Homo sapiens: one gene and its partner. The protein of the gene in region 1 purifies or fractionates together with the protein of each later gene. This does not show direct contact. Each region holds a gene or a part of one and is shown on either strand. Other genes may lie near its edges.

Region 1 (3,817 bases):
TTAGCTGGGCATGGTGGCATGTGCCTGTAATCCCAGCTACTCAGGAGGCTGAGGCAGGAGAATCACTTGAACCAGGGAGTTGGAGGTTGCAGTGAGCCGAGATCATGCCACTGTACTCCAACCTGGCGACAGAGTGAGACTCTGTCTCAAAAAAAAAAAAAAAAAAAACCAAAAAACAAAAAACAGACGGTCACGGGTGACACACATGTTGGGATTCGTTATGCTGTTCCATCTATGCGTGTATGTTTGACATAATTCCTAAGAAAGCACTTTTTAAATGCAGATTGTCCGGGCCGGGCGTGGTGGCTCACACCTGTAATCCCAGCACTTTGGGAGGCCAAGGCAGGTGGATCACCTGAGTTCAAGAGTTCAAGATCAGCCTGACCAACATGGTAAAACCCCACCTCTACTAAAAATACAAAAATTAGCCAGGTGTGGTGGCGTGCGCCTATAGTCCCAGCTACTCATGAGGCTGAGGCAGGAGAATTGCTTGAACCAGGGAGGTGGAGGTTGCAGTGAGCCAAGATCATACCACTGTACTCCAGCCTGGGCGACAGAGCGAGACTCAGTCTCAAAAAAAAAAAAAAAAAAGCAGATTGTCCGAGGAGCAGAGGAGAGGCTGGGGTAATCTGGGGCAGGGCTGTTTCCAGCCCTCAGGCTGTTTCCTGGCTGAGAGAGGGCAGCCAGGACCTCACCTCCCATGGCCAGCATTTCCCAGGAGCAAGTGGGAGGGAGGGGCTCCATCCTGACCCTGCAGCCACGCTGCAGAGAAGGGAGAAGCAGCTGCTTCCACTGCCCATGGAGGCCCAGGAGATGTGGCTGCAGGTCCCACCCATCGCCCTCCTGCACGGACACTGAAGGATACCCCCCAGTTGGAGCTTTTGTTCAGGACAGTGTTGTACCAAAGCACCTTTCCTTCCGGCCAAGTGAGCTGCCGCCAAAAATAAGAGTCCACAGCAACCGTCAGTCCTGACAAAATAAAATAGAGTTTCTTAGTCGCAAACACAGCCATCAGTAAACATCCCGCCACAATGCAGCCCCCATCACTACAGAAACTACAAGCTGCTTTCATATAAAAGAGGTTGGGCAGGGTGGGAAGATTGCTGGAGCCTAGGAGTTCAAGGTTGCAGTGGGCCATGATCATGCCACTGCACTCCATCCTGGGTGACAGAGCAAGACTATCTCTAAAACAAAAAAAGAAAAAAGACACCAACTGTGTCGAGGACACCACTGCCCAGAACCACCGCCTGGCGCAGGGACAAGCCGCCCTCCACTCTTGTGGCCTCCCCCAGCCCAAGGACAAGGGACAGACCAGTGAACAGGGGCTCCTAAGGCGCACGGTGGGTCCCCCTGGAGATCCCCGGGCAGGGGGCTTAGGATTGAAATGTTTTCAACACTGCTAAATTTAGGGTCATTTTATTTCATGGGGATGAAAACCTCCCAAATTTCTCTTGACCTTTGTAAAACAAGGCAAAACAAAATCCAGTTAGAAGCATCCCACAGTGACTGACTTACCTAAACAGAGGATCCCTGCCGGGACGGCGTGGCGAAGGGCTCTGACTACAGAAACCTTTCGGTTGCCCAAGGCCAGCAGCAGCAGGAGGCCCAGGAACAGGCACAGCTCCACCCTGAACACGATGATGGCGAAGGCTGACAGCCAGATGAAGCGGGCCCACTCGTGCCGCAGCCAGGCCGCGAGGGCCAGCAGGACTGCAAGACAGTGCGGGAGGGTGCTCGTCAAGACACAGGGCCCACCCGGCCCAGAAAACACCCGGGGAAGTGAAGGGTGATTCCTTTTCCTATTATAAAAGCCACACAAATATCCCAGAAAAGAAACTGCTCAGAGCCGCTCCCCGCACCTATGCTGTTGGCCAGGAAGTGTGTCCCAACCCAGCATGGAAAACAAAGAGCCTGGTTTCAGGTCACAGACCATCCTGAGGAACCCAGTGGGGAATGGCCATTACGGGGGAGGCACTGCCATCAGCTGCACAGCCCGACTCAGGGGAGCCCCTGCCCGGCACCATGGGTGTGCAGGCCCGGCCGGCAGCTACGTACCTACAGGCAGGGCCAGCACATTGGGCAGTGTCCGCGTGCAGTAGAACATCAGGTGGAACTGCATGGCCGTCACCCAGCAGAACATGGTGGCCACCATGGCCCCGAAGTGCCGTCTCACTTCCTTTTGTAACGTCCAGAGTCCAAAAATCACGCCGAGTCCAAGCACTCCTCTAACTAAACAAAGACAGTGACAGCACCTGAGCCTGCAGTGGAGGAGTATCCAGTGGGGCCCCCTACGTGGGTCCTTCTACACAGATCTTTCTATATGGAGTTTTCTATGCTGCTGCAATGCCAGCTGACGGCTACGTCAGGCAAAGCAGCCTTGAGGGCATCGTCTCCATGTTGAAAACAGACGACTGGACCCAGGCCCCCTGCGCTCCTGTCGGGAACTGAGGACCCTTGCGGGGGCTGCTCTCTGAAGCATGAGGGAGGACACACAACTTGGGGGTGCCACGAGCTGAGCCCTACACTAAACCAGAGACCCCACCGGGCTGTGGCATCTCCAGGGGAAATGTTTGCAAAGGCCGGGCTCAGACCTTGCTCTAACCAGCAGCCATGAGGAGGTGGGATGTGGCAGGAACACAGGCTCCCAGGCAGGAAGGGGGTCAGGACCCCTCTCCCCATTTGACAGCAGGAGCCACCTCTGGGCTGGTGGTCTGATGAGGAGGTGGTGAGGGGGCAGGTGTGCCCAGGACAGTACCCAGCCGACCACACATCCTCACCGTGGACCGGCCTGTCAGCCGCTGGCAAGAGACTGAAAACAGGAAGAAAAATGAACTTCTGGGTGGCTCTTGCTACCTTTCCAGAAGGCCAGAGGAACTTCGAAGCCATGTGAGAAGCAACTGGGTCCAGGCAGCTGTGGGGGCCAATGGGCAGAGATACCCAGGCACTGCCAAGGGGGCCACGGATGTCTGAGGGCTGGACCTGCTGTTCCCAGAATACCCCATGTGCATACCAGGCATTTTCTTTTCACTGATTGCTGGATTCGGACTGCAAATGTCTTTTTTTTTTTCTTTTTAAGGACAGAGTTTCCCTCTGTTGCTCAGGCTGGAGTGCAGTGGCATAATCTCGGCTCACTGCAACCTCTGCCTTCCGGGTTCAAGCAATTCTCCTACCTCAGCCTCCGGAGTAGCTGGGATTATAGGCGCATGCCAACACGCCCGGCTAATTTTTGTATTTTTAGTAGAGACAAGGTTTCCCATGTTGGCCAGGATGGTCTCAAACTCCTGACCTCAGGTGATCCCCCCGCCTCGGCCTCCCAAAGTGCTGGGATTACAGGCGTGAGCCACCATGCCCAGTCTGAATGTCTTAATAGGACATTTTTCACTGATACTCACAAGTGGGTCTGGCTCCAGCTGCTGTATTTTTGGTGCTGGAATTTCCCCCGGGCTTTTAAACAATTCACAGACCCCAGCAAAGCCCCGCTTCCCCTTTTCCCCATCAGGTCCATCCCCTGCGTCTCTTCTCTTGGTTTTCCATCTTCCCAAATGCCCAACAATCTCAACCCCGTGCCCAACAAGGGTAGCCTCGGCCTCACGATCAGCCTCGGCTGCGGGATCACCCTCGGCCCCGGGATCAGCCTCGGCCACGGGATCACCCTCGGCCCCGGGATCAGCCTCGGCCGCGGGATCAGCCTGGCCCCGGGATCACCCTCGGCCCCGGGATCACCCTCGGCCCCGGGATCAGCCTGGCCCCAGGATCACCCTCGGCCCCGGGATCACCCTCGGCCCCAGGATGACATGCTCTTCATCCAGAGAGGAAG
Region 2 (3,686 bases), on another chromosome or scaffold:
TTTCCAGAGAGATTTTATGTGTTATTGATTTCTATTTGGGTAAAAAGCGGGTCATTGCATTCCGTTGTTCTCTAGAAAGTCCATACTCAGTCCTATATCCATAGCAATTGGGCTGGTGTGTTTTTTTTCTTCTTCTTCTTTTACATTTACATTTTTATAGTCTCTCATAAAATGGCTTTTTTTTTTTTTTGAGACAATCTCTCTGTTATCTAGGCTGGAGTGCAGTGGCATGATCATAGCTCACTGCAGCCTCCAATTCCTGGCCTCAAGCAATCCTTCTACCTCAGCCTCATGAGTAGTTGGGATAACAGGCATGAGCCAGCTTGGCTGCATGTTTTTGAAAATAGGTACCCACTCTTAAATCTGTTTTTCAGGCTCAGTAGTAGTGGTTTAACTTTTAAGATTTCCAGTAATTAGATAAATTACTTGAAGCACTCCTAGTATTTTTTCGTATTTCAGACATTAACTCTCCCAGCTGTTTATTTTTTTACTTTCGTGTTTTAATAACCCTCTATGACTTTAATTTCAAGAACTGAAGCATTCTCCTTTAAGGGATAAAGTATTTTATTTTGATCATTTATGGGGAAGTACCTCTAAAGGATGCATTATATATGTTCTTTCTTTGGTAGTTTAACTTTTTCCTACTGACTTAGGGTTATGAAATATTCATTGTTTTGGGTGATTCTGCTATAGAGTACTAGAATGTAAGTTTCTACTCAAAGTGGTCCAAGAGTTTTAGAATTATGTTTTATTTCTTAAGTACTTCCCTCACTTGCAGCCATTCTTTCTTCTTTTCATTTTTGTTTGATCTCTGCCCTGTAGGCACCCAACCTATTTGTTGTTTTTCTTTGTGGTTAGAAATTTCATGTCCAGATTTTATACAAATGAATTTTCAGTTCTGATTGCAGTGAATATTTTACTCATATAGATTTTATTTAATTAATTAATTTATTTTGAGATGAGGTCTTACTCTGTCACCCGGCTGGAGTGCAGTGGCACGATCTTGGCGCATTGCAACCTTTCCTTCCCAGGTTCAAGCGATACTTCTGCCTCAGCCGCCTGAGTAGCTGGGATTACAGGTGCCCGCCACCATGCCCAGCTGATTTTTTGTATTTTTAGTAGAGGCGGGGTTTCACCAGGTTGGCCAGGCTGGTCTCGAACTCCTGACCTCAAGTGATCCACCCACCTCGGCCTCCCAAAGTGCTGGTTGGTATTACAGGTGTGAGCCATCGTGCCCAGCCTCACATAGATTTTTAATGTGTTTGGTTTCTGATTTATTTTTGAGACTCGAATTTTTTTTTTTCTTTAGGGTTCTAATTCAGTCTTCAGATAACTGAAGTTAGATAGCCATTTCTATGCGATTGGTAGTGGTTATTGTTTTCAAATTGAAAACAGCTTTATTGTTAAGACTATAAAAGAATAATATGTCATTGTAAAATATCCAAACCATACAGAACTTTATAAAGAAGAAAGTAAAAATTACTTAGAATTTTCTCATGCAGAGATATGGCTAATCAAATTTTGGTAACTGTCCTTTTAAGTGATTCTATACCATAAATATTTTGATGCTGAATTTTCTCTTTGTTATGATACTAAATTTCAGAATTTTTAAGTGATGCTCAATGTATAATGATTCGTTTATAATTTAAAATTCTTTATCTTTTCATAACCGTAGTATACCTAAATATATTACATATTAACATACACATATTGAAATAAATTATATATAGAACTGCAACTTTATAGTTTTTTTTCTAAGACCTGGATAATGGCAACGAGAGTAGCATTTTTAGAGATTTCAGAGGTAGAATCTGAGGATGGAGAAGAATGGCAGGATAAGACTAACTTTAAGGTATTTGCTTTTGAGTGACTAGTCACTGACAGAATTAGCCCATATCGGGGAAAACAGGATGATCAGCACTCTCCTGTTAACGTTCTAGACAGTTGGGGGCCATTTATCTTGAAACATTATCTTGTAGTAATTTGCATTCACATTGATAGTAGAAGCTGACGTTTTCTTTGGACAACTCTTTTTTTCAGGTTTCCTCAAGCATCTGCTTCCTACATATTACTACAATTTGCACAGTATGGGAATATCTTAAAACATGTGGTAAGGCTTAATTTTTTTCAGTTCAGAGTTTTGACTAAAGAGGGATAAGTTGTGAATTGAGAGAAACTGCTTCTGAATTTTGTGGGTTTTTTTTAAACTTAAATTTTTTTTTGAGTTTTGATATAATACATCCTTTGAAGTCTGGAAGGCTGGAAGTTGCCTAATTTTTGATAAAAAGAGATATAGTGAGAAGATATGGAGAATTGAGAGTTTGAAAATCCACCTCCTCTCACCTCCTTTCTTAAACAGTTTACAGTCTTAAAAAAGATAGATTATGCCAAGTATTATATTACTGTTTTCCAATTTGAGCTGCTTTTATTGGGGATAAAAGAAGTAGGAGGCAGTTCCTGAGCTTTTAGAGTTTTTAGAGCTTTATAGCTCTAAAATTTAAAAAATTATCTTACCTTGTGCTACAAGTTATAAGTAACAAATCCTTTTTTGTTGCTAGAGATTGACTTAACTCCTATACAAAATCAAATTGAGTAGTTTTAAATAACTTTATGGCAAGTGTTGCTTTGATCTCTTTACAATAAACATATTTTGAGAAGTATCTTACTTTCAGAGAATATGTACATGTTGATTGTAGAGAATTGAGAGATTGTTGAAGCTGTTCTAAATACGATTTTTGTTGAACTTTACAGCTTTTTACAAGGCATCAAATACGGAATGGAAGTAAATTTATCTTACCATGTTCCTATTTTCTAGTAGAATTCATTAGATGTAGATTTTATATATTTTCTATTTTAAGAGACAGTTTTATTCTTTGCAGATGTCTAATACAGGAAATTGGATGCATATTCGTTATCAATCTAAACTGCAGGCTCGGAAAGCCTTAAGCAAAGATGGGAGGATTTTTGGAGAATCCATCATGATTGGTGTAAAACCATGTATTGACAAAGTAAGTTATTGGTGATGTAGGCAAAGTAGCTTAATCTATATGAAGAGCACAAGACCAAGGATTGAAATTGGTCGTTGTGTCACTTGGTTTCACTGTGTCTGTTTTTCTTAGTTTGTAAAATGTGATGATGTTTATAGTACTCTTTGTGGTAAGCCGAAGGTATTTAATCATAGAGTTTAGAATTTAGAGGTAATCTGTCCTCACCTCTTCATTTTTCAGATAAAGAAACTGAGAGGGCTTAAGTAACTTGTCCAGAGTTGTTAAAGGTGAGGCCTAGATTTTAGGTCTCTTGACTACTAATCCATTCTCTTTCTTGTGCAAAGCGATACCAGATTCTTTAAAGTACTTAAATGGAATGGTACTATTTCAGAATGAATTAGTTCATATTAACATTAACTGATAGTTAACTTTTAAATGTCAAAGGTTTTCGTTTCAAAATATTTCTGTTTAAAACTATTTTAAAATTATTCTATATATACTCATTAAATAGTACAGAGTACAATTTAAACTGTTCTTTGTGGCTTGTTAAATCATTGTGAACATTCTTTAAGTATATGTGAACTTGTACTACATTCCAGGCATTGTGCTTGGTGCTAGTATACACACATTAATGAACAAAGCAAGATGTGGTTCCTATTCTTAAAATCTGTTATATCAGTGTAGTTATATAGTTATAAT

The links.
Region 2: the proteins of ALG12 (region 1) and NUP35 purify together in Homo sapiens (affinity purification with mass spectrometry; one large-scale study listed by BioGRID and IntAct). This does not show direct contact.

Annotation. Positions count from the first base shown.
Region 1 is NC_000022.11:49,908,379-49,912,195, forward strand, and holds part of ALG12 (dol-P-Man:Man(7)GlcNAc(2)-PP-Dol alpha-1,6-mannosyltransferase), read right to left. Parts: intron 2,230-3,817; coding exon 2,056-2,229; intron 1,711-2,055; coding exon 1,516-1,710; intron 970-1,515; coding exon 866-969; intron 1-865. UniProt on the Homo sapiens protein: Mannosyltransferase that operates in the biosynthetic pathway of dolichol-linked oligosaccharides, the glycan precursors employed in protein asparagine (N)-glycosylation.
Region 2 is NC_000002.12:183,155,404-183,159,089, forward strand, and holds part of NUP35 (nucleoporin NUP35), read left to right. Parts: intron 1-2,040; coding exon 2,041-2,110; intron 2,111-2,879; coding exon 2,880-3,008; intron 3,009-3,686. UniProt on the Homo sapiens protein: Functions as a component of the nuclear pore complex (NPC).